Linked DNA regions of Homo sapiens: region 2 is linked to region 1. Evidence: fine-mapped expression QTL. A gene starts in region 1. The other region holds a variant in brackets. All regions are shown on one strand. Distances are between the middles of the regions.

Region 1 (10,549 bases):
GATTACATTTATTTAAAGAATATAGAAATATTACAATTAAATGTTTCTGCTTGTGTATGCTTTGATAAATTTAGCAATTCATTCTTTTCATTTAAATTTGCAGATTTAGTGGAATAAAGTAGTTCATAATATCCTTTTGTTACATATTTAGGATCTGCGGTAATATCCTCTTTATTTCTCACATTTAGAATTTGTTTTCTTTCTCATTTTCTTTCTGTCAGTCTTACCACAGTTTTATATCTTTCATTAGTCTTTTCAATAATCAACTTTTGAATGTTTTGTCCTAAGTTTTTATTGTAGTAAATTTCACATAGTATAAAATTCATCATTTAACCATTCAATGACATACAATTCAATGGCATTAAGTATGTTCACAATATTGTTCAACCATCACCATGATCTTGCGCCAGAATATTTTTCACCATCTCAGAAGGAAACCTATGTGCATTAAGTAGTTATTCCCCATCCTCCTCTCCCCTGCAGTTCCTGACAACTACTAATCTGCTTTCTGTCTTTATGGATTTGCCTTTTCTGGCTATTTCATGTAAATGGAATCCTATAATATGCTGCCTTTTGTGTTTGGCTTCTTTCACTTAGCATAATGATTTCAAGGTGCATCTATGTTGTGGCATGTATTAGGACTTTATTCTTTTTTTATAACTGAATGACACTTCATACAATGGATAGTCTCTCTTCAAGTTTGTTTTTTATTTCATTGATTGCTGATTTTATCTTCATTTCCATCCTTCTCCTTTCTTTGGATTTTTAAGCTTTTTGAGATGTGTGCTTAGACAATTGAAGTGAAGTGACATAGTTCTGTTAGCTTTCCCTTTTCGTACTTTCAGTTTCTGTTTTTAGGTGCACGTCAGTTTTGGTTTGCCCATATCTAGACATACAAACTTAGGGCTCCTACACTTCCTAATTGGATGACTTTGTATGAATGGGGATAATCGTATTGATCCTATCTCCTTGTCCAGGGTCTTGTGAGAGAATGTAAGGTAAAAGCATTTTGTAAACTAACTTCCAGACTTGGATAGTACCTTGTACTTTGCACTGCCATTGCTTTATATCTGCATAGTGCTTTCACAGGTTTTTAAAAATTTAATACAGCAAACCCACAGGAATTATCTCCATTTTACAGATGTTATTTCTGCTACTATAGAATTTTCAGGAAGTGACCATGAATTTAGTATTTAAAGCCCAGGGTTTTTGGGTTTTTTTTTCTTCCAGCTTTACTATAGCTGCCTCATGCAGAATGGTATTATTGGCATTCTTAGAACATTGGAATTTCACACTTTCAGAAACTTGAGAACATTGCAACAACTGCCAACAGGGCTCAGCATCCTCTGCAGATGAACAACACCAAGTGGTATAGTTACCCAATCAATCCTTTTGCACTTCTACAAAATTAAGCTTGGCAAACTTGGCTCTGGCTTTCTACCAATTCATTGACAGTTTTTACTGACTACTCCGTGAATTAGGCTTTTTGTGGGAAAATAAAAGAATGGGTTGATGTGATTGTTACCAAATATATTTAGGAAGAAGTATTTGAACATGTGCAAATAAATACTTAGCACATGAGGATCAAGGGAGGAAAGGAAAGGGATTCTAATAGTCAAGGTGAGATCTGAGTTTTTAAAGAAGTTTGCTTTTTAAATGTTTGGTTATACATTTCTGGTGATAAAAAAATTCTAAGTTTAAAACACCTTCATAACTTCTCATAACATTTAAAATCTTCACATAGCATGGACTCATACTCTTGTCTGCACATTTTAACATGTGTGAAATAGGAAATTATTGTATAATTAATAGTTTCTTAGAATTGTGTTGTAGATTAATTATAGTTTTTCTTTTTTAGTAGTACATAAAATAAAAGAATAATAGATAGTTATGTATTTAACACTGATGGCATTACAGTAAATAAAATATGGAACATTAAAGTATTCCAGAGGATTCTGTAATAACTTTTAAACATTCATTCATTCATTCATGTATTCAACAATATTTATTGAGCACCTAGATTTTGTTAGGTGCTGTACCAGGCGTTAGAGCTATAACAACAAGCAAGGCATTTTTATACAGGCTTCTGGTCTAGTGAGAAAAACAGTACCGTGATAAAGTATTAACAATACAGAGTGGCAGGAATAATAAAGAAGCAGCATGGTGCAATGAGACATATGAGAATGGTATCCAAGATTTAGACATCAGGAAAAACTAGTAGAAATAAATTGCAAACAGGTGCCTGAAGGAGCAGGTAGGATTTGATCATGTTAAGAATGGGGACTAGTATTCATACCCTCGTGTAATTCCTTCACCTTGAGAGAACAGAATGAATACAACATGGAAAAAATGATATGTCACTTTGAAAATTAGGTTACAAAGAGATGGTGACTTCCATCTGGCTTGTTAAAATGAGATCACAGTCCTGGCCAATGCCTGGGCTACGACCTTGGGAAAGACCCTGAGGCAGAGGCACCAGGTAAGTTGTAGTCATACTCCTGGCCCACAGAAAGTGAGAGGTGATAAGTGTTTGTTGTTATAAGCTGACACATTTCAGGCTTGTTTGTTACATGATGGTAGATAACTAATACATCTGTAGGGAAGTGGGGTGGACGTAGGTATGAGAGGGATTGCAAATAGGCATGAAGAAATTTGGAGGCAAAGGATATATTTATTACCTTGATGCCTGTGATGTTTTCATGGGTGAATATATATGCCAAAACTTATTGATTTATATATAATGACATATATTGAATTATAAACACATATAATTATATTTATATATTATAAATGTGTGCAGTTTATTGTATATAAATTATATCTCAATAAAGACGTTTGTATTTTAAAATGGGGAATAAAAAGCTTATGGAAAGACAGTGTTTCAGGCAAAAGAGCAAATGAAAACAAAAGCCCAGAGCAAGAGCTCCAGAAAAAGCAGACCATTTCAAAGTGTGCATTGACATGGGAAACCTTTGCTCTTGGATTTGAAAGAGATAAGTAGGTTAAGGGAAGGAAGGAGGACAAGATTGGTTGTGAAAAGAGGTAAAAGAGAACAAAGAGAACAAATAGTCAGTGACTTCAAACAAATACCATGGATTTTTGTGCAAGAAAGACCACTTGGGTTCTTTAAGGCCCATAGGACAACTGGGTCAGAAAAGGAGAGAGTGGCATCTCTAGTCTACTCCCAAACCATCTTTCAATCCCTGCTCCTCCTGCCTCCTTTATCCCCAACCCCTTGCCATTCATTTGTACTTTCCTTCCCTTTACAAATATTTGAGCATTTACTATGTGCCAGAAACTGTTCTAGGAGTTAGAGAGAAGGTAGTTAGCAAGTTAAGGTCTGTGACCTCTAAAAGTTTACATGCTAGTAGGGGAAGGCAGGTGGCATTAAGTAGGAAGATGATTTCCTATGGAGTGCTGTGAAGACAGTGGTGATAGAGTCCTTAACACCAGGTATGGCACAGCCTCAATCAGTCAGTTCAGTCCCAGCTGAACAAAACACTATTTGGGAGAAGAATCCTAGAGACCCTACTGTGCCAGGAAATAATACCTTGGTTGCTAGATCATGGTAAAGTGAGGGAGGATTCCAGGGAAGAGAGAATGGTCAGTATTGTGGAGGACCTCTTGGAGGGTCTGAGGAAGTGGTTATTTAACAACCACTGTAGAAATATGTCATTATTCTAATAACCAGTAATTCTGTACTGGTGCTAACCATTTGATATCAGCACTGAGGTCTTAGTAACTGGTGCAGAGAGAGGGTTCAGGAGAAGAGGGTGTGGAGGAAGTCTACTCTAGATGGTAATATTGGGAAAGGCCTCTCAGAAGAAGTGACATTTAAGCTATGACCTGAATGAAGAGAAAGAGAAATGCAAGGGGTAGTTGGGAAGTTAAGTCAGGGGGATGGGAAGAGGATTCTAGCCAAAGAATAGCAAAGACAATGATGGTGAAGTGCAATAAACTTGGTGTGTGTACCGAATGGTACAAAAGCTAATGTTGCTGCAACGTTATGCTGAGTGAATTATAAGAAATTAGGTCAGATGATAAGCACAGCCCAGATCTTGTGGGGCCTTTCAGGCCACAATAAGAAAATAAAATGAGAAGCCACAAGAGGGAGGATTTTAAGCATGGAAATGATATAATCTGATTTACATTTTTAAAGGATTACGTGGGCCTTGGTAAGAAGAATGGATTTGTGGGGAGGGTGATTAGGGAGAGAACAATGGAGAATCTGTTCTAGCCTGGAGATGATAGCAGCCTGAACCAGAGTAATGGCAGTGGAAATGGGGAAAATTGGGTTGATTCAAGATTATTTGAAAGTTGTAGTGGTTTCAAAGAGCTATCTATACATTCTTTGATATGTGGGCTAGGCATTTTTGCACTGCTATAAACACCTGAGGCTGGGTAATTTATATAAAAAAAGTTTTAATTGGTTCATGGTTCTGTAGGCTGTACAGGAAGCATGGTGTCAACATCTGCTCAGGTTCTGGTGAGGACCTCAGGAAGCTTAAAATCATGGGGGAAGGTGATGGGCATCACTAGCATGTCACATGGCAAGAGAGGGAGTGGGGGTGGGGGGAGGTGCTATAGTCTTTTAAACAACCAAATCTCACGTGAACTCAGAGCAAGAGAACTCACTCATTACCATGAGGATGGCACCAAGACAATTCAGAGGGATCTGCCACCATGACCCAACACCTCCTACCCTGTCCCACCTCCACCATTGGGGATCACATTTCAGCATGAGATTTGGAGGGGACAAACATCCAAACCATATCAATATGCCTCAAGGCATATGAAGGGGAGCCTCAAAAGGTGAAGTTTAATTCTTCTCACCTTGAATGTAAACTGGAGTTAGCAGTTTGCATCTAACAAACAGAATATGACAGAAGTTAGGGGATGTCATTTCAGAAGTTAGGTTAATAAAAGATTGTGGCATCCATTTTGGAGGCATGCTATCTCACTCTTTCAGATTGCTCATTCTAGTGAAAGTCAGCTACCTTGTTCTGTTGTAGTTCTGTAGAGAGGCCCACGTATCAAGGGACTGAAGTATCAAGGGACTGAAGTCTCTAAAGAGCTGTGTGAGTAATCTTGGAGGCTGATCTCACCTCCTTCACCCACTCCAGTTGAGCCTTCAGATAAGATGGCAATTCACACTGACAGCTCAGCTGCTAACTCATGAGAGACCTTGAGCCAGAGGTATCTAGCTGTGCCATGCCTGAATTCCTGACCCACAGAAATGATGAGATAATAAATGTTTGTTGTTTTTAATGGTGAGACTTTAGTATAATTTGTTATGCAGCATACGATAACTAATACAAAATAGAGCCTATAGGACTGACTGATCTGTTTGGTGCAAGAGGGTGTGAGGAAAAGAGATGGATGAAAGAAGATATGTAGATTTTGGACTTGAGCAACTGGATGGTAGTGATGCCATTTATTGAAGTGTGAGTTTGGGCAGGGGGGATTAAGAGTTTTCCTTTGGACACATTTTGAAAAGACTGTTAAACACCCCAGTGGGCATGTCAACCAGGTAGCCTGCTGGGCCCTGCCCAAATTCCTTATGCACTGTTTATGAGCATAAGAAAATGATTGTTTGGTTTAGCAGCTAACCTTGTGAAATATCTCCAATCTTCCATTCTCACCTTAACCCATTCTAATATGGTTTGTGTTCTTTTGACTCGTGTAGAATTTGTTCTTATTAAACCACCTATTGTATCCATGTTATCTAATTCAGTAGTTACTTCTCTGCCATAAGCATACTCAACTCATAGCCACATTGGACACAGATCATCATTCCCCCTCTTTTCGAATACTCTTCTCTTTTGGATTCATTGGTTCTACTTCTTAGGTAGATTCTTCTGCTCCACCTGGTGTTAACCAGGGTGGCTTAGCCAGTGGTATTCAGTTGGTGGCCAGGCTGTGGTGGCTGGGCTTGTCTAATAGCCCACTTCATTCATTTCTGCTTCCTTGGTGCCGATGGTTAAGAGGTTGGCTTCAGCTGACCACTTTCCCTCTCCATATGTTCATGGCCTTTCATGTGAATGCTCCAGTGGAGTGGTCAGGTTTTTTACATAGTAGCTCAAGGCTTAAGAGCAAGTGTTCAGAAGGAGCAGAGAGAGAGGGCAGTAGTTACAATGTGAGGCCAAAGAAGCTTCCCCCCAGAAAGCTAAAGGTGATAAGTAAAGCATGTTGGTATTGGCTGGCAATATTCCACAAGAGATGAAAGGACAGATATTGCAGAAGAGAGAAGGTATAACTGGGACCAAAAGCCTTGAGAAGGAAAGAGACATGGAGCAAATCATTCACAGTAACAGCAGACAGCAGAGAAGAGAGACATGGTTGTACAGAGGCACCTCCTTTGGGTCTTTACTCAAATGCCCCATTATCAGTGAGAACTTCTCTGACTGCTATTCTTCAGCAGAGGGTATTCCTTATCCCCTTTCTTGCTTTATGTGTTTTCTCCATAACATATGTGCATATCCATAACACACACATGCATCACCTAGAGCATTATATATGCCACAGTGACATGTTTTGCTGATTTCTCAATTGACTCCCCCCATTGGAATGAACGTAAGCTTGAGGAAGACGTTTTGTCCTGTTCTGTAGCATCTAGAACAGCGCCTGGCACATAGTAGGTACTCAATAAATGCCAGCTGCATGAGGAAATGAATGAGCTGTGTGGGGGATGTACTTGAGTGAACTCTAAAGTCAGAGTGGTGTTGAGAGAAAAATGCTTGAAATCCAGATGTTGGAAGGTGACACAGAGTAGTAGCCTGGTGAGAACAGTTAGATCTTAGGGGTTCCTACTACAGCCCTCCCTTCCGCACCTTTTTGGCTGTCACCATGATCAAGCTACTGAATCTCTCTGAGACGCAAGGACCGGGATGGCACAAAGTGAGTGCTCACCAAAGCTTGACTGTCCTTTCCCATGGCAATTTACTTCAGCTTGTTTGATTTCCCCTCCCCGACTGGACTAGGCACCTATTCTCTGTCTTCTCTCTTTACAGTTGGAAGGAGCAAAATGGGACTTTTGGCTGAAAGTGCTGAGCTCCTGCGGTGGGGGCTGACCGCAAGCCACGCCTTCTGTGCACCTGGTCGGCCCAGCTAGCTGCCGACCCGGCGGGGAGGGGCGGGGCGGGCCAATCGGCGCTGCCCCAGCAGGGCTGCGGCTGCAGGCAGGCAGAGCCTCCTAGCCCGTCGGTGTCTGCGCCCATCGATCCCTTTGTCTATCCCCGACCATGGCGAAGCTGATTGCGCTCACCCTCTTGGGGATGGGACTGGCACTCTTCAGGAACCACCAGTCTTCTTACCAGTAAGTTGGGTTGTGGTGAGGGCTGCAGCCTTCGTCCTCCTCACTCCCTGCCAGCTCCACGAGCCCCCAGAAAGTTGGGTCCAGGCTGTTAACAGAACATTTACAAGCAGGTGCTAGATGCACACTCTGCGGGGGTTTCATAAATGTTTGTCCAGCCGTCATGTGTCACTTGAAAACAAACTCTTGCTCATGGCCTGAGACATGGGATAAGGAGGCAATTGCCAGGGGTGTGAGTGCCCAGGTTGTCAGCATACACGAATTAATTTTTCATGAAGATTTGTGTGCCCTGGCTACAGATTCACTTCTCAACCTGGAAAGAAACAAACTAACCTGGCTGGGGGTTCTCCTGATATTTTGTGTATTAGAGAAAGGAGCCCCTGTCGCTTCTGCGCCTTGACTGCCTGGCCATGGCAAACCTTCCAGGCTTGAAGATTCTCAAATTGAGGCTACTGAGGGCCACAGCAAAACTGCGTGTGGACCCGAGCAGGTGGAGCTAACGTGTGCTGTGATGGTTCGCTTCAGTGGGGGCAGGCGGGGAAGAGGGAACCCTGGAGCCAGCATCTGATGTCCTGGGGTTTAGCTCTGCCCCATGAGTATGCGATTTGGGCAAATCACTTTACATCTCTAACCTTAGCTGCTTCAGTAAACTGGAAATAGTAATACACACTGCCTGCGACAGAGTAGCTATTCAATAAATGTTAGTTCCCTGCTTCCCTTTAAAGTATTTAATAAAGGGTTAAGTGCTATACAAGGGGGGTGGGGATATTTTAAGAATGTATCAAAAGTTTCATAACTTTTAACAGGAGTTCAAAGTCTACAGATCATCCTAGTCTCTAAGGCTTAGTCAACAATGCCTTATTTACTTTAAAGTAAAACCTAATAAAAATTAAATATAAAAAAATTATATGAGCTTATGGACTAATTAGAAGCTTACATTCAGAATGGGTTTTTACTATTTATTGTGGATGTTTTTCTAATTTTTTTAAGTTACAGAGTGCAGAAAAAAAGTAAGAAGCAGTTGGTATTCTTGGCTTTTAAATCATGTAAAAATTACAGTTTGTGAGTTTTTATTAATCACAGTGCTGGTGGCTGCCAAAGGAGATTATAGGTATAGATAAAAATATATAGATAAAGGATGGGTTGCTGAGCCTCCTGGAGTGACCCAGACAGAGGAAGGAAGGGAAATTTTACCCACTGTTGGAAACCCCTAAAACCTAGCTACTCAACTGGGTCTGGGGACCAGATGCCTGAGCATCACCTAGGGGCTCCCTGTACAGGCAGAATCTCAAGCCCTACCCCACACTATTGAATCAGAACCAGCGTCATGGAACAAACTCCCTGGGGGATTAGAGATCATGAATCTGCCCCAGGGAGAGAAGGCAAGAGATGATATCATGAGGCCTGCATCAGGAGCAAGCCAAATCCCCAGGATAGATGCATCCTTTTTTCTTCAGACTTGGAGTGTATGTGTGTGCGGCTCACAGGAAGCTATATATGCCTGGGCTGGAGGGAACTTAAGGAAGCACACAAGGGATGCCTCAAGAGATTTCTGAGTTTCCCAGGTGGGAGCAGTACAGAGAAAAGAACTGAGAGAGTTCCCCTAGACCACGAGTCTCCCACCCACGAGTCTCCCACCTTTGTAGTCGGCTGTATGTGCCGCACAAGTCCAGGGAATGCCTTGGATGATGGTAGAAACAGCTCCCCTCCCCTACCCCAACTTGGGCTATGGAATGTTGCAGCATCTGTATGGCAACTTCCTTGTCCCTACATTGCTAATTGCAATACGTGAGTCCACTGAGTTTCCCTTCTCAGAAGGAAACCACAAAGCTAACGTTGGGCCTCTCGATGCATTTCTGCCATTCCATGCTTACTGTAGGCAACACACAGTTGTGGGAAGAGAGTAGTTGTGGATTCCTGATGACCTGGGTTAGATATCATTTCTGCAACTTTCAAGTTATTTTACCACTTTATTCCAGAAAAGTTCCAGCCAGTTTCTCCACCCGAAAATTAGGGGATAATAATACATATTACAGCATATATATATATATATACACACACACACACACACACATACATATATTTATATTTATATAAAACATATAAATAAAACTAAGTATATATATATATATAAAAATCAGGCATATAGCAGATGTCCTGTAAACGTTAGCTTTTATAGCTGTCATATGTGATCTCAAAAATATAGAGTGATACTTGAATATGTATTATAATCATACTTCATTGAAAGTCTGAGATAAGGACAAATAATCCTCCAACCCTCCAGTCTCCCCTATGAATGCAACCAACACCATCTTCTCAGTCTGATGTACTTGCCTAGTATCTCCACAAAACACTTCAGTGGACATCTGCAGAGTACCTTCTCTTTGCAAACGTTGTGTTTCTGCTGGAGGTTATAGGAATGAATAGGTTGCAGTATTCACTCACCAATTTTAAAGTCTACTGGGAGCAAAAGAACAAAAACTGACAGCTGTGAAACTGACAACTATGACAACTATGGTAAGAAAGTTGACAGATGTATATGTGAAGGTTCCTGAGGGTAAACTAAGGAGTTATTAATCCCAATGCAGAAGACTGGAGAAGCTACAAAGCATCATGAGTAGGGGTCTTTCCAGTGGGTAATGGGCTAAAGAGCATTCTAGGTGAAGGGAAAAGTGTGAGCAAATAAAAAGAGGTATGAAAGAAATACAGGGAAGAGTCCTTAGTATCATGACACTTGATTTCAAATCCCAACTCTACCCTCTTAAATAAGCAACCACATGCAATTTACTCAGCCTCTCAGTGCCTCCATTTCCTTACCTACAAAACAGGGTAAATATTCATCTTTTTCTCAAAGGTGGCTAAAAAGATTAAATGAGGAAGTATGTGTGAGAGCCCTTATTGGAGCTTGGCACATAGTAGGCCATGAAAAGCAATTTGAATGAATGAGGCGTGTGTAGTAGCAGAAAATAGACTGATTAGAGTGAATTTGGCCCCAAGAAGAGTTTGAGAATCGATACGGATTTCTTAATGCCTAGGCAAAGATCTCTGCTTTTTTCTGCGAGCAGCCAGCATGTATTTTCACCGAATACTTCTGCCTTGGTTTGGATGTTCGTCCTCTCCAAACCTCGTATTTGATCTCTAATGTTGGAGGTGGGGCCCAATGGGAGGTGTTTGGGTCATGAAGATGGATCCCTCATGAATAGATTAATGACCTCCTTGGGAGTGAGTGAATTCTCA
Region 2 (12,253 bases), 580 kb before region 1:
CTATCCTTTCTCACCTCTCGTTTTTAAAAAATTCCAAATCTTTAATATTCACCATTATCCAAAAAAATAATGATCATGACAAAGGTCATGATGATAAAGATGATGATGGCCAATATTACGACGGCCAACCTCTACTACATGCTAGTCATGAGCAACTGTGAGCTACATGTATGTATGATCTGATTTCATTTTCAAAACAACCCTGTGAGGGGTGCTATTGCCTCTTTAACAGGTGAGAAATCTGAGTACTTTCAAAGTTCATGTAACTAATAAGTGACAGCAATAGGACTTGAACCCAGTCTGTAACCTATAAATGTCCATAATTCTTGTACTGATTCCTATTCTTCTAATGCCTTGACAAGGCAGCCAAAGCCCAATGCAACCTGATTTCCCATTACTCTCTGCTCTACTTACTGGCCCCAGCACACCTGCCTCCAAACCCTTGCTAATGCCCAGGAGGCCCTGTCCTGCCCTTCAGCCTCTCTAAACCTTAATCCATGCCTCAGAGCCCAGCTCAAGACTTACCACTTCCAGGGATAAGTGTCCACTTTACATGGATTATACATGCATGGATGAAGGGCTAGGGCTGTCAGATAATATAACAGAAAATACAAAACATCTGGCTCCTGGACACAGAAGTCCTGAATGCCAGTTAATCTGGGTGGGAGGAGGAACAGATGGGGGTAGCATTTAGGAAGCTGTATTATTTCAGGTGTGATGTAATAATGGCTAGAGTTAGGGTTTTAGCTCTGGGAATGACATGAAAGGTACAGGATCCAAGAAATATGAAGAAATAATTCACAGGCCTTAGGAGGGACTCAATATTGAGTGGAAATGAAAGGAGAAAGAAGAATTCTGAGTCCTCCAATTCAGATAGGTCAAACAAAGCAAGAGCAAAGCCTTCATCCTTACAGCATCCCTATAGGGGTGACAAGGTGGGGACAATGCAAGGAAAAGAGGCAAGGAGATTCTTGCAGTGGCCTAACAGTGGGGCCAGCTCTGCAGCCAGTCTTCTGACCCAGGACCACCTCTGAAGTGCACTTGAATCAAGCGCAACCCCAAAATGACCATCTGAGAAAGAGAGAGAAAGACAGATGAAACAGGATGGAGAACGAGGCTCAGTCCAGGTAACGCAGGTCTCAAAGCACCTAGCAAGGAGTTTGGACTGATCTCAAGAGCAACCAGATGCTGGGTCCCAAGTCTGTGGCTCGCACTGCCAAGCTCGAAGAGGCAAAGGTTAAAGAACTTGTCACACCAAAGTGGCTTAAATGTACACTGTTGAGTTTTCTGTACATAAAAATAATTAAAATAATACAATTTTTCCTTAAAAAAAGAGCACCAGATACCACGGAAGGGTTTTAAGCAAGGGGGTGATGCGATTTATTTATATTTTATAAAAGTCACTCCAGCTTCACCCTCATTCCTTCTGCCAGGTCCTTCTCTTCCTCCTTCCTCTTTTCCTTTCATGGCCCAGGATCCAATTCCTTCACATTCCAGGACAGCAGAGTGTGAGCATGCCCAAGCCATGCCCCCTGAAACCCCGGCTGTAGTGCAATGTAGTCACACAGAAGATGCCCAATAAACACAGGTTTAAAAATGAATAGATACAAAATGGAATCTGGACACATTTTTGTTTTACATGTAATTTCCAACAACAAGGTTCTCACAGCCAAAGATGTGGTTAGGAAACATCCTTGTTGCTGCTAGAGTTCGAAAAATATCCAAGTTGTATTTTCCCTTCCCGCCCCGCCCCCCCCCCCCACCCCCCTCCCACCCTCCAAGTTTCTCCAGAGTTTTCAGCTGGGTTTTTTTTTTTTTTTCTGCTGTCTCATTACTGAGCTCCTCTTTCTCCTCCCCATGAACTTTTGTCCTGCCATTCTTTCCCTTTCAATTAGAACTGTCTTTATCCCAAGTCTCTCTTTGGTATTTCATCAGTCTTCACATCCTCCCTTTTTGGTCTGTTCCAGGAACAAACACAGTCTTTTTTCTTCAGACACTGTCTGGGAGAGCTGTGCCCAACTCTCTAATTTCCCCCCACTGCCGTCCCATAGTCCTCCCATCAACCCTACTCCCTGGCTTGTAATGCAGTTTATGTTTTGTCTTAAAAGTAGTCTTTTGTTTCTTTACAGGCCAAGATCACATTTAACAAGGTACATTTTACTATGACTCTGGATATGATAATGTGGTGATGCCAGCTTTCCAGTGCTGCTCCACTGGGGATGCCCTGCCGAGCACTCTGCTCTCCATGTATCTAAGCCTGCACACTTTCTAAACCAACCGCTGGGGAAAATCACCAGGAGTCCTAGATTCCTGGGCTGCTAGTGAGCAATCAAGGAGGCTCTCCTGCATTTGGCTATGGATGAACCCCCACCCCTCGCCCCACCCAGAGAGGCCAGACGACTGAATGCTAAATCCTACAGATTAGCTAGAAAAATGCTCAGGAAATCAGAGTTGAAGAGTTGTTCAACCAGTAATATTTAGCCATTTGGTGTATTATGAGCATCATGAGTCATTCACTTTTTTTATTATTACTGTTTTCTGGTACAAAAGGCTGCATTATTTTCCTCAAAACTCTTTTCATGGTCTCATCAATAGTGCCTACCAGTGTTTTTTTAAATCTTTGATATTTAGGGTATAACACAATAGATGTTAAATCTACAGCTCGCTATTTAGGTGTCAAATGCTTGCTTATAGAATGAAATGTGGAAAAATAGCTCATTTGCAAAACTAGAGAGCTCCATGATAGGGTTCTATAAACAAATATTTTATTGTTTTAGAAACTAAGTTTATGATAGATACATTTTTATTAAACTCTATAAGTGCAGTCTCCTTGCACGGGTAGTCTCCATCTCCTCCCGTGGTTGTTTAACAAGGTTAAAAAGAGCATTTCATGATCTTCTTCCTTAAATAAGATACCCATGACTGCTTAACTAAATTTGCCAACACCTAAACACTATTTTGTATTAGTTAAAATATGTTATAAAAAGTAAATAAAACATAGTTAACAATTATAAAAATTTCCATCTGTCACATTTGGTTGAATTTACTTACATAATTTGCAAGTATTGTTTTCATTCTATTTATTTCTTGCTACTCATATTTTGTTTTCAAAAAATAGAACTCAATTTGACAATGCTTTTCTACTTTTCCATGTAACTGATAATTCTGTTAAACAATATTTATTGAATGTTGAATATATATATATATTCTGAGACCAAAAAAAAAAAAAACAGTTGATTGAGACATTCATTCTCAAGTAGACTGCCCTGTGGTCTACTTGAGAACAAGGACCAAATGAACCGATACAGTCCTGGTAAAAGGCAGAGAATGAGGACGGGAAACTGAACTGAAGAGGCTGTAGGAACTATTTGTGAGGAGATGAGTCTTGGGCTTTCAGCAGTGGAATGGGTGGGGTTGGGGCTAGTTAAACAGCAGAGGGAATGTCACTGGAAGAGTAGGGAAGAGCAAGACCACAGGCACAGGGACAGGAATGTGATTTGACCATAGTGAAGAGTGAAGAGACCAACGGGCTGAGTCCAAGGGCTCCCATGTGCAAGTGAGAGGAGGTTAGGCTGACTGTACACAGCTTTAAGTGCCAGATTATTCTCCGGGAAGACAGAAGTCCTAAAGTTTCCCCCAAAATATAAACGGTCATTCTGGCAATTATATGGTGGCTTATGAAAGCACACACTGTGTGACCTTAACTCATTTTCAGGTGCTCACTTACACTCATGAGAGTAAGGCTGCTTCAAACATGAAAAAGCGGGGCAAGGATATATGCTCGTATCCAAATATTTTTCCACTGTTTTGCATTACCTGAGAAGTGTGGGACAAGAAAAAGCAAGTAGCTCAGAGATCAACAGCTCTGTTTTTGACTGAGCTGCCGATTTCAAAGCGGATGTTCTGCAAGCAGCTCTCGGTAAGGAAGCTGAGAAAGCACAGCTGCTTGGAGAGCTTAAGTGGTTTAGCTTAATTCCTCTGTAAACTGTATTTTAAATGACTATGAAACCACATTTCTGTGACTGGTATTGTTTAAAGAGATGGAAGCCCAGCTAAAATGCTTTGGTTTTCTTTCATAAATATTCAGATTTATTCTAAGACTTTTCCTTCACAGTCTCTGAGAATCAGCCACTTGCAAGCAATGAAGACTGGGCTGCCCAATGTGTGTCCTGAGACCTCTGTTTGTCACAAGCATTTAATTTTCTTGGAGCTATAGTAGACTGTAGTTTTTCAGGTTGCTTGATAATGGGGCTTTCTATAAATAAAAGAAGCAAGAGCAAATGTACTCCACCCTGATTTCCTCAAAGACAAATTCTCCCACCCCAGTAAATATAAGCATACAGCTTAAAGGTCTGTTTTTTGAATAACAAATAAAGCAACTAAGTCTCAATCTTTTAATGAAAAAAAAATTAAGGCTAATTCTAGGAATAAATGGAAGTGAAAGATAAGTCCTTCACCGAGATCAAGGACTCACTGTGAGCACATGGTGGAAAATACGTAAAGGTGGTGTTTTAAAGACCCTCAGAAAAGTTTGATTAAAAAGCAAGAGCCACAGATGTATAAAAAAAGGAAAAGGCATCAATAAGAATTAAGCCTCTCACTCTGTGACAAGTGATTGAGACCCTTTACATTCAATATCTCATTTACTTTTTACGAATATCATATGCAGTGAATTCTGTTTCCATACTCCTAGATGCAGAAACCGTAGCTCAAGGGGATTAAGTAACTTGCCCAAGGTCACAGTTATAAGTGGTGAAATAAGAATGCAAACCCAGGTCTCTTTGGCTCACAACAGTCCATGCTATATTCATTACACCACAACAAGGAGAAGGCTTCCAGAAATAATAGAAACTTCAAGAAATATATTTTACATATAATTGAAAAGGGCTACTGACTGAACATGTCTATCAGAAAACTTGAAACTGTTCTCTCTGTCTTTCCCAGAAAAAATATAGTTCATGCAATAATCTGCAGTGCATCCTCACTGGGTCCTTACCGTTGGGAAGCCCTGTTGCTAAGAAGCATGTCCCCAAGAAGCATCCAAGCCAATTGGAGAGCTATAACACAGAGAGATAAAAAGATAGCTTATAAAGAACAGTATATCATTAATATTGAAATGAATGACTATAAAGACTACAAAGTGTTCTAGTTAAGATGAGAGAGAGCTACTTTTATATTGGGCTGATCAGTGGAGAGATCAAAGCAAAGGTGAGAGTGGGACTTAATCTTGAAGGATGGGCAAAATTTTAATCTGCTCACAGTGTTGACAGGATAATGAAATGCCATCTATGAAAAAAAAAAAAGCCCAGACACAATGGGGCGTTAGTAGAAGTCCAGTCCCTATCCCTACCCGAAGAAAGACAAACCCCCTGGCGAACATCTCATGCAATAAAATGGAGGATAAACCCTTCAGCATAATCAGGGACCCCACGTGAGTTTGAGACATAGGTCAGGAAAGAAGAAGGGCAATATTAGCATGAGTCTTAGAATCTCTAGTTGCTAAACTTAGAGGAAAAATGACAGTGGCCTTTTTAAGAAAAAGGGGTGCAGAAAATATGAGTCTGCAGCTGAGTAGGTCTACAACTCCAAGTATAGAACCTTGTCAGCACTCGAGTTTTGTATTCCTGGGAGCTATCCAGGGTACTGACCTATTCCATTCCGATGTCACTGACCCAGTGGACCAAGGCTTGCCTTAGTGTTTCTGCACACGCAACATGGGAACCTCTTTACTTCATCCACTCTGAAACTACTGCTATTTATGACCTCAATTACTTTCCAAGCCAAAATGCACCTTGTCTGTTGCCTGTCATGGTTTATAATTCTAGGCCATCAATTTGGCTTCCAATTGGCATTCCAACAGGTAAAGAAAACAGTGGAGGCATTGTAAGTGAAAACAACACTTTAAATAAGGGTCAGAAACAATAAATTGACCCACTTGCTTAAACTAGAGAACTTACACAGGGAAACTGTAGAAATGAACCTGGAAATGCAGGCTGAAATTAGCTTGTGAAAAGTACTGATTTCAGTGATAAGGCATTTTGACTTTTTGCATAGGCAACTTCAGCATTCTGAAACTTTGAACAGAGATGTGACAAAAGGAATGTTGGGAAAATCAATATAGAAATATCATGCCAGTGGGTCAGAGAGTAAACAATCAAGTGGCAGGCAGATAGTCCAAAGAAGGAGCTAAAAGTTTTTAGAACATACACTTTAACTGACAATTCTTTTCAGAGATATTGGATGTCAAGGAAAAAGTTTTCCAAGAATTCAAGATCACATTCCCTTCTGCTATTTACAGAAAGCTTATTATTGGGATGTCTGTATATATATATCTTTGTGTGTATGTGTGCATGTGTATATGTGTATATATATATATACATACACACATATGTATACATACATATGTATTTTTACATATATATGTAAAATCTCCCCAATACTAACCAACATGCAAATCCTAAGAGAATGTTCTGTGATGTCCTGCATCTGCCATTGGCTGAAAATGTGTCTCTTCATCTCCCAGTCTCCAGTCTCCTCCCATTTTGTTATAAATAATCTGACCAATTTCTCAATGCTGAGTATCTGTCACTTCTCTTTTGCAGAATTAGCTAGGCAAAGCATATCACTTATGGCTTACTAGGGTGCATCTCCTTCTGTCCATCAGCCCATCCAGCAGTTGCTCTGGGAGTCAGCTGCCTCCATCTTACACAGATGAGCAGGGAAAGAGGAACTGAGGATCAAGGGCCTGAGGTCTGGCTAGGGTCCAGGTCCTTGGTAACAGTACTCTGGAAGTAATGTCATGTGGATTCTGTGATGTGATGCCCTTGCACCATAATGCAGTTGCCAGATTTAGGGCAGTCTAAACTTCTCCATATACCCTAAAATAAAGGGCTAACCAAGCCCACTTATCAGCTGCCTAGT[ACCTATG/G]CCTCCAGAAAAATAAGGCAAAACTGGACTAGAAATCTTTTGATCTAGCCATAAAATGTTGCCAAACTGTCAACACATTCTCAGGATACTGCTGCTCCTCTCCACCCACCTGTCTCTAGGCTCTCTTTGGGAGTTGCTTTCTGCTCTAAGCCAAGTTATCTCACAGCAGCATCCACTGCTTTCTAGCATTCAACTAAGTACACCCTACCAATGATGCACATTCTCATTCTTTGGAGTCAAACAGAGATTCAAATTCTGCTTCTACTAATTATTGGTTGTACCCTCACACAGCTCCACAACCTCTGTAAGCCTCAGTTTCCTTACCTATCAAAGAGGAATGATTGAACTTTCCCCACAGAGTTGTTATAAGGATAAATTTAAATAAAGGATCCACTTAGCAAGGCCTGGAAAATGGAAGCATTCAATAAACTATGAATTGTGGTGCTAATAAAATGATATCATTTCTGTTCTTTGCAGAATATTCACATGACAGTTGGTTTTCCCACAAGCTGAAACATTGCAAACATTAAGTCTCCTGTCTGCCTCTTTGTGTGTGGGTCTATCTTTTAATCCAGCTCCACTTATTTTCTTCACTTTTACTTCTTCTGGGTTCCAGTCCTTGGCATGGATTACTGTCCAGCTAGAACTAGCTGTGACTAGCCTTGCTGCTCCCTGTTGGAGGTAGAAAAGGATGCTTCAGAAAATACAAGGTGCCACACTCTTAAAATGAACACTTCCCTAAATAAGTTGGAAGCATTTGGGTAAAATGGCACAAAACACTTTGGAGAAGCACAGTTTGATTTCAGTGTGCAAAAGATGTAAAAACTAGGAGAAGGTAAATATGTTCTTATTTCCCACCTTCAATATACGGTACTTACTACTAAAATACTAACTATACTAAATTGCCTCACACTTCACGTTTCTCCTTAGTGAGGGTAAAGATAGCAAAAAATACTTGCTACCAAGATTTGGCCATGGAGTACTGTAATATTTTGCACTCCAGATGAGGCTGCACCACTAGGCTATCTCATGCCCATTAACAATTGCACAAGGCTCAACTAAATTAATGATGTTCCTGAGTCAGCCTGGAAACAGCCGGTGCTTTTCTAAAAACAAAAACACTGGACCAACTAGAAAGATAGCTTTCATACTGTTCTCCATGGAATAAGATGGGGGTAAAGTTTTCACACATGAATTAAACTAAACTGAAATAAGCTGGGCCATTGTTTTAATAAATTGAGGGAATGTGGCTGGCAGTAATTAGAATGGCCTGAATAAAGAACACGTTGAACTCCCTACGCTGGGGGGAAAGCACTTGGAATATTTCATTAGGAGGAGGAGACAAGTGGATTTAAAACATATCATGTTTTTAGACGACTACGTTTCCCATGCATATGAGGCACAGTATAAATAATACTATAAAAAAATGCCATGTTCTTAAAATGCAATGGTTTCCCCAATATATAACATGAATGTAAACAAGATGTCTGTCAAGCATAGCAATAACATATTGCTTAACACAGCAAGCTTATAATATGCACCTATTATTCTTGCTTCTCTTAATGAAAGAATCTGAGGACACTGCATAAATTCTTCAACACATGTTTCACTTCTTCAGCTGCCTTGTGCTGTAGAACATCATGCTAACAAGAAGTGATGCTAACAAGAAGCTAAAACCAGTGTAGCAAAGGGGGCATTTAAATATATATAAACATAATGGCATTCACAAAGAAAGGAGCTATTGGAGGCAACTAAATGGATCCCTAGACAGACATATTTTAGTTTAATATTCCATGTATTTTTCTACATGCTAACTATTTCAGTTCTGCTCAATAGCAGGAAAAAACACGCCACTGGAGAACAAGAAGTCAGCATGCAATTATCTCCTGGGCTCATATACCAAAAACAATTATTTTTTGGGAAAGGAAAAAGACAGCCTCTTGAATTTCACAAACTTTCTTTGGTCACTTTAGAGCCGCCCTTAAATACCAATATTTGCAGACAGCAGCTAAAGAAACAAAGATTGCACTGCTTATACTAAACAACCCATCTGGCAGCTCATGTGCATTCAGAAAACCTGGATCATTTTATGCACTGGCCCACTAAAGTTGGAGAATCAGTTTCAGATCTTACTCTCTTAAACATTTGTTCAGCATCACCAGGGAAATCAGTTCTTGTTGTTGATTGAGGCCAAACCTAAAAAGCAGTGATTTCTGTTATGTATTCAGAATGAAGAAATGGCTGGTCTTTTAGCCTAAATTATCCAGGTGTTTGGCCAACCCTTAAGCAGATGGCAGCCCTCATCTCACCATACTAGGCTTCATTCATCTGTTGACATCCTTTAGATTCCACAGCCTTCATCAATAAGCACTGTCAGTAAGCAATGCTTTTGCAGAGAATTGAACATTTTGAAAATGGCATTTTTGGTCAATTAAAGCAAGTTTCACATTAAAAGGAGAATTTGGGATCCTAAAAAGGCAATATATTGAAAATAGTTCAAGAGCCACACTTGGGTTGGAGAGGAGGGGGATAAGTACAAGCTATTTTTAAAACAGAAAAGAAAAATAACCTGTTGAATTTACAGATTATTGGAAAAGATATTTGGTGTACACCCTGCTTCAGTCTGAAGAATACAGTGTAGCTCTCACTCATTTGTGATTATTCTTAAAAAGTAAAGGTAGCAAACAGATGCAATGATACATTCTACTACACATGCAGAGAACTCTGTCCCTTTTACTACAGCCTGTACTATGCCTCAGGCTCCAGGAAACCAGTCTGATCTTGGCCCAGATCTCACAGGCAGTCCAAGTTGGTCTGAACAGGTTCCAAAAGAACTGTGCTCCAACCTAACTGGGCACTAGTCAATGACTGTAGAGCATCATTTAAGCTGAAAGGGATAGTTATCTAGGCCTAAAATCAGCTGGAAACATACAGCTGCCATGTCAGCAGTCTGCCTTTGCCGGAGGCTCTGGCACACTTAGTTGGGATCCTTTGTTATTTCCATCCAAGCTGACATGATTGCTTAAAAAGGAGGATGCCATGTTTGTTTGTTTTGCCACACTTTATTTTTTCTTCCTCCTCTATATCCAAGAAACAACCAAATAAGAAATTAAAGGACCTTTTAATATTTTCTTCTTATTCCATTTCAATTGGAGAAAATCTTTCATTAAATACACTCAACTTATTTAGAAGGAACACAGTCTAAAATATTTGGTATTGTGCAACTCATTCCTTATATGTTATTTAGAATGAAAATCTCATGAAACATACATGGTATGATTCTTCTTAATAAAACTTTTTTATTCCATTTGTGCTAGGATTTTTTTGAGAAAGAGAGGATGGATGGCAAAGATTATATACCATACAACTTATTTTCCAAGTAAACCAGGGCATCAAGAAAAGCCCAAGTCTTACAGGATCAAACCCTCGTATTTTCCCTAACTGATATTATTCAAAATGAGTTTTAATGGTGAGAGGATAACTTCCATGGGGCAACCATTTTCCACATGGATTTCCAACTCCAAATCTCCTTAGCAATGACCTCAGCTTGACTCCAAATTTAACTATACACATCTAACCTCAAGTGCAGCTTCTCCAGCAAACCCCAGATAGTCCTTATTTTTCTTTCTAAAGTAATGTGTATATTGTATCCAGGCCATGATGGTGGTGATTATTATATTAATAAAGCTACTGTTCCCTGGAGATGTGGCTTTGTGGTTTCCAAAGAGCCTTCTACCCTAGCCAAGGAGGAGGCAAAAACTCTTGTATGGGTTGTTTTGCAATGGTTTGTGGCAAAGAATAGCAGAATGTCACAAGAAGGAAGTAAGAATTAAAGGGGAAGGGAAATTTGAAGAGAATACAGCTAGGATTCCTTTCCAGTGGCATGCTGAGCACAGGCTATGGAGCAGTGTTGAAAATGCAGTAGGATGGACCTCACTATCCATGGAGCCTCGGACGCCCTCTACAGACAAGCTCCCCAAGCTGTGGCCGGAAAAGGCAGCAGAAATACACATGCAGACCCTTTCTGGGTCATCGTCAGGGCAAACTCATGTGTCCCATGGAACAGATACCTCCTTGCATACAAAATACAGGCGAGCACCTACATGATAATAAGCACATTATTCACCACTATTTCTGCAAGCTGCTCTAAAATCAGAGGCTTTGGGGAATAAGAAGGCAAAAGAGATACATACAGAGGTAGAATAGAAGTCAGATAACAATGGTAGAAGTTCCTGGAGAATATTCATAGAAAAGAATTAAATATTCAAAACTTACTTTAAGATCAGAAAAAAATCTAGTGATGTAATTTTTCTTCCCCTCCGTGCTTTAAATATCCTAACATGCTAGAAACATTGAATGAAAGTGGTGGTTTCTAACACACTCCACATGTAGCATTATCCTTACCTGTGATTTTAAATTAGTTCAGCTCACAACGTGCCTGAAGGAGTGGTTCACTCTCTCCACCAACTGCTGTTCTCCATCTCCATTTTTCAAGGAGTCATTGACTCAAGCTAATATATAAAAAATGTCCAGGATGATTCTGACTTGGTGGAACCAACACATCAGACCTGGCCATCTGGAGTGGAATGTGCCTGGGATTCAATCTCAAGGGTGCCCAGTATGGGGAAACGCTGACCTCTGACTTGAACATCATTTCAGCCCAAGAGTGACCAACAGAAGATTCAGATTTCATGGCCCATGGAGGCATCCCGGCACCAGTTTGTTTGTGGTTGTTTTTTAAAGCCCCTCTGGTGATTCTGACATATAAGCAGGGTCAGAAATCCTTATGCAGAGCAAGATTACTATGCTTGGAAGCTCTGTCTCCAGATGTAACATGGTCCCTTCCCCATTGCTTTGACATTTTACAATTCTACAGGGCTTCCTTCATTCACTTAATAAATATCAATTGAGTATCTACAATTTGTAAGGCACTGTCCTAGGTGGTGGGGGTAAGCAAAGTCTCAAAACAAGGTCTGAGACTTGTGGATTTCACATTTTTGAAATATTAAAAACAATATTTTACAAGTACTTGGAAAAAAAATCAAAAAGCCTACCTTTACTTGGTGACAAAACAAAAGCATTTTAAATGCCAGATTGAGTTTTCAATAAAGTATTATTTTTAAAAACGTCTTTGTGTTGTGGTTTATAGGATAGGTTGTTGTATTTTTAAAAAAAGAGATTCCCATTTCCATAATGAAATCTTCGAGTCTAATCACCAGGATAAGTAAAGATAGTCCTTATTGTCCAGGGCATTAAACTTAATCAACCTCTTCTTTAAGCTCATGAAAGCGTTTCTTTCACCTGCCTCAACTGGAAAACAGTCATT

The links. PIP is the estimated chance that this variant, and not a neighbour inherited with it, causes the effect.
Region 2: its variant is the best candidate, but not a certain one, in a credible set for the expression of PON1 in hypothalamus (GTEx, PIP 0.64).

What each region holds. Positions count from the first base shown.
Region 1 is chr7:95,321,168-95,331,716 of GRCh38, reverse strand. PON1 (paraoxonase 1) reads left to right here and starts at 7,185. Exons shown (of 9, transcript NM_000446.7): 1 at 7,185-7,315. The coding sequence starts at 7,242. RefSeq lists a silencer at 7,062-7,241.
Region 2 is chr7:95,898,752-95,911,004 of GRCh38, reverse strand. The region is part of intron 6 of DYNC1I1 (dynein cytoplasmic 1 intermediate chain 1); the gene reads right to left. Among named protein-coding and RNA genes, the nearest start is that of DYNC1I1, 130 kb to the right of the region's middle. RefSeq lists a silencer at 5,541-5,741 and an enhancer at 8,231-8,822. The variant ACCTATG/G (reference allele first, on the strand shown) is at 6,922.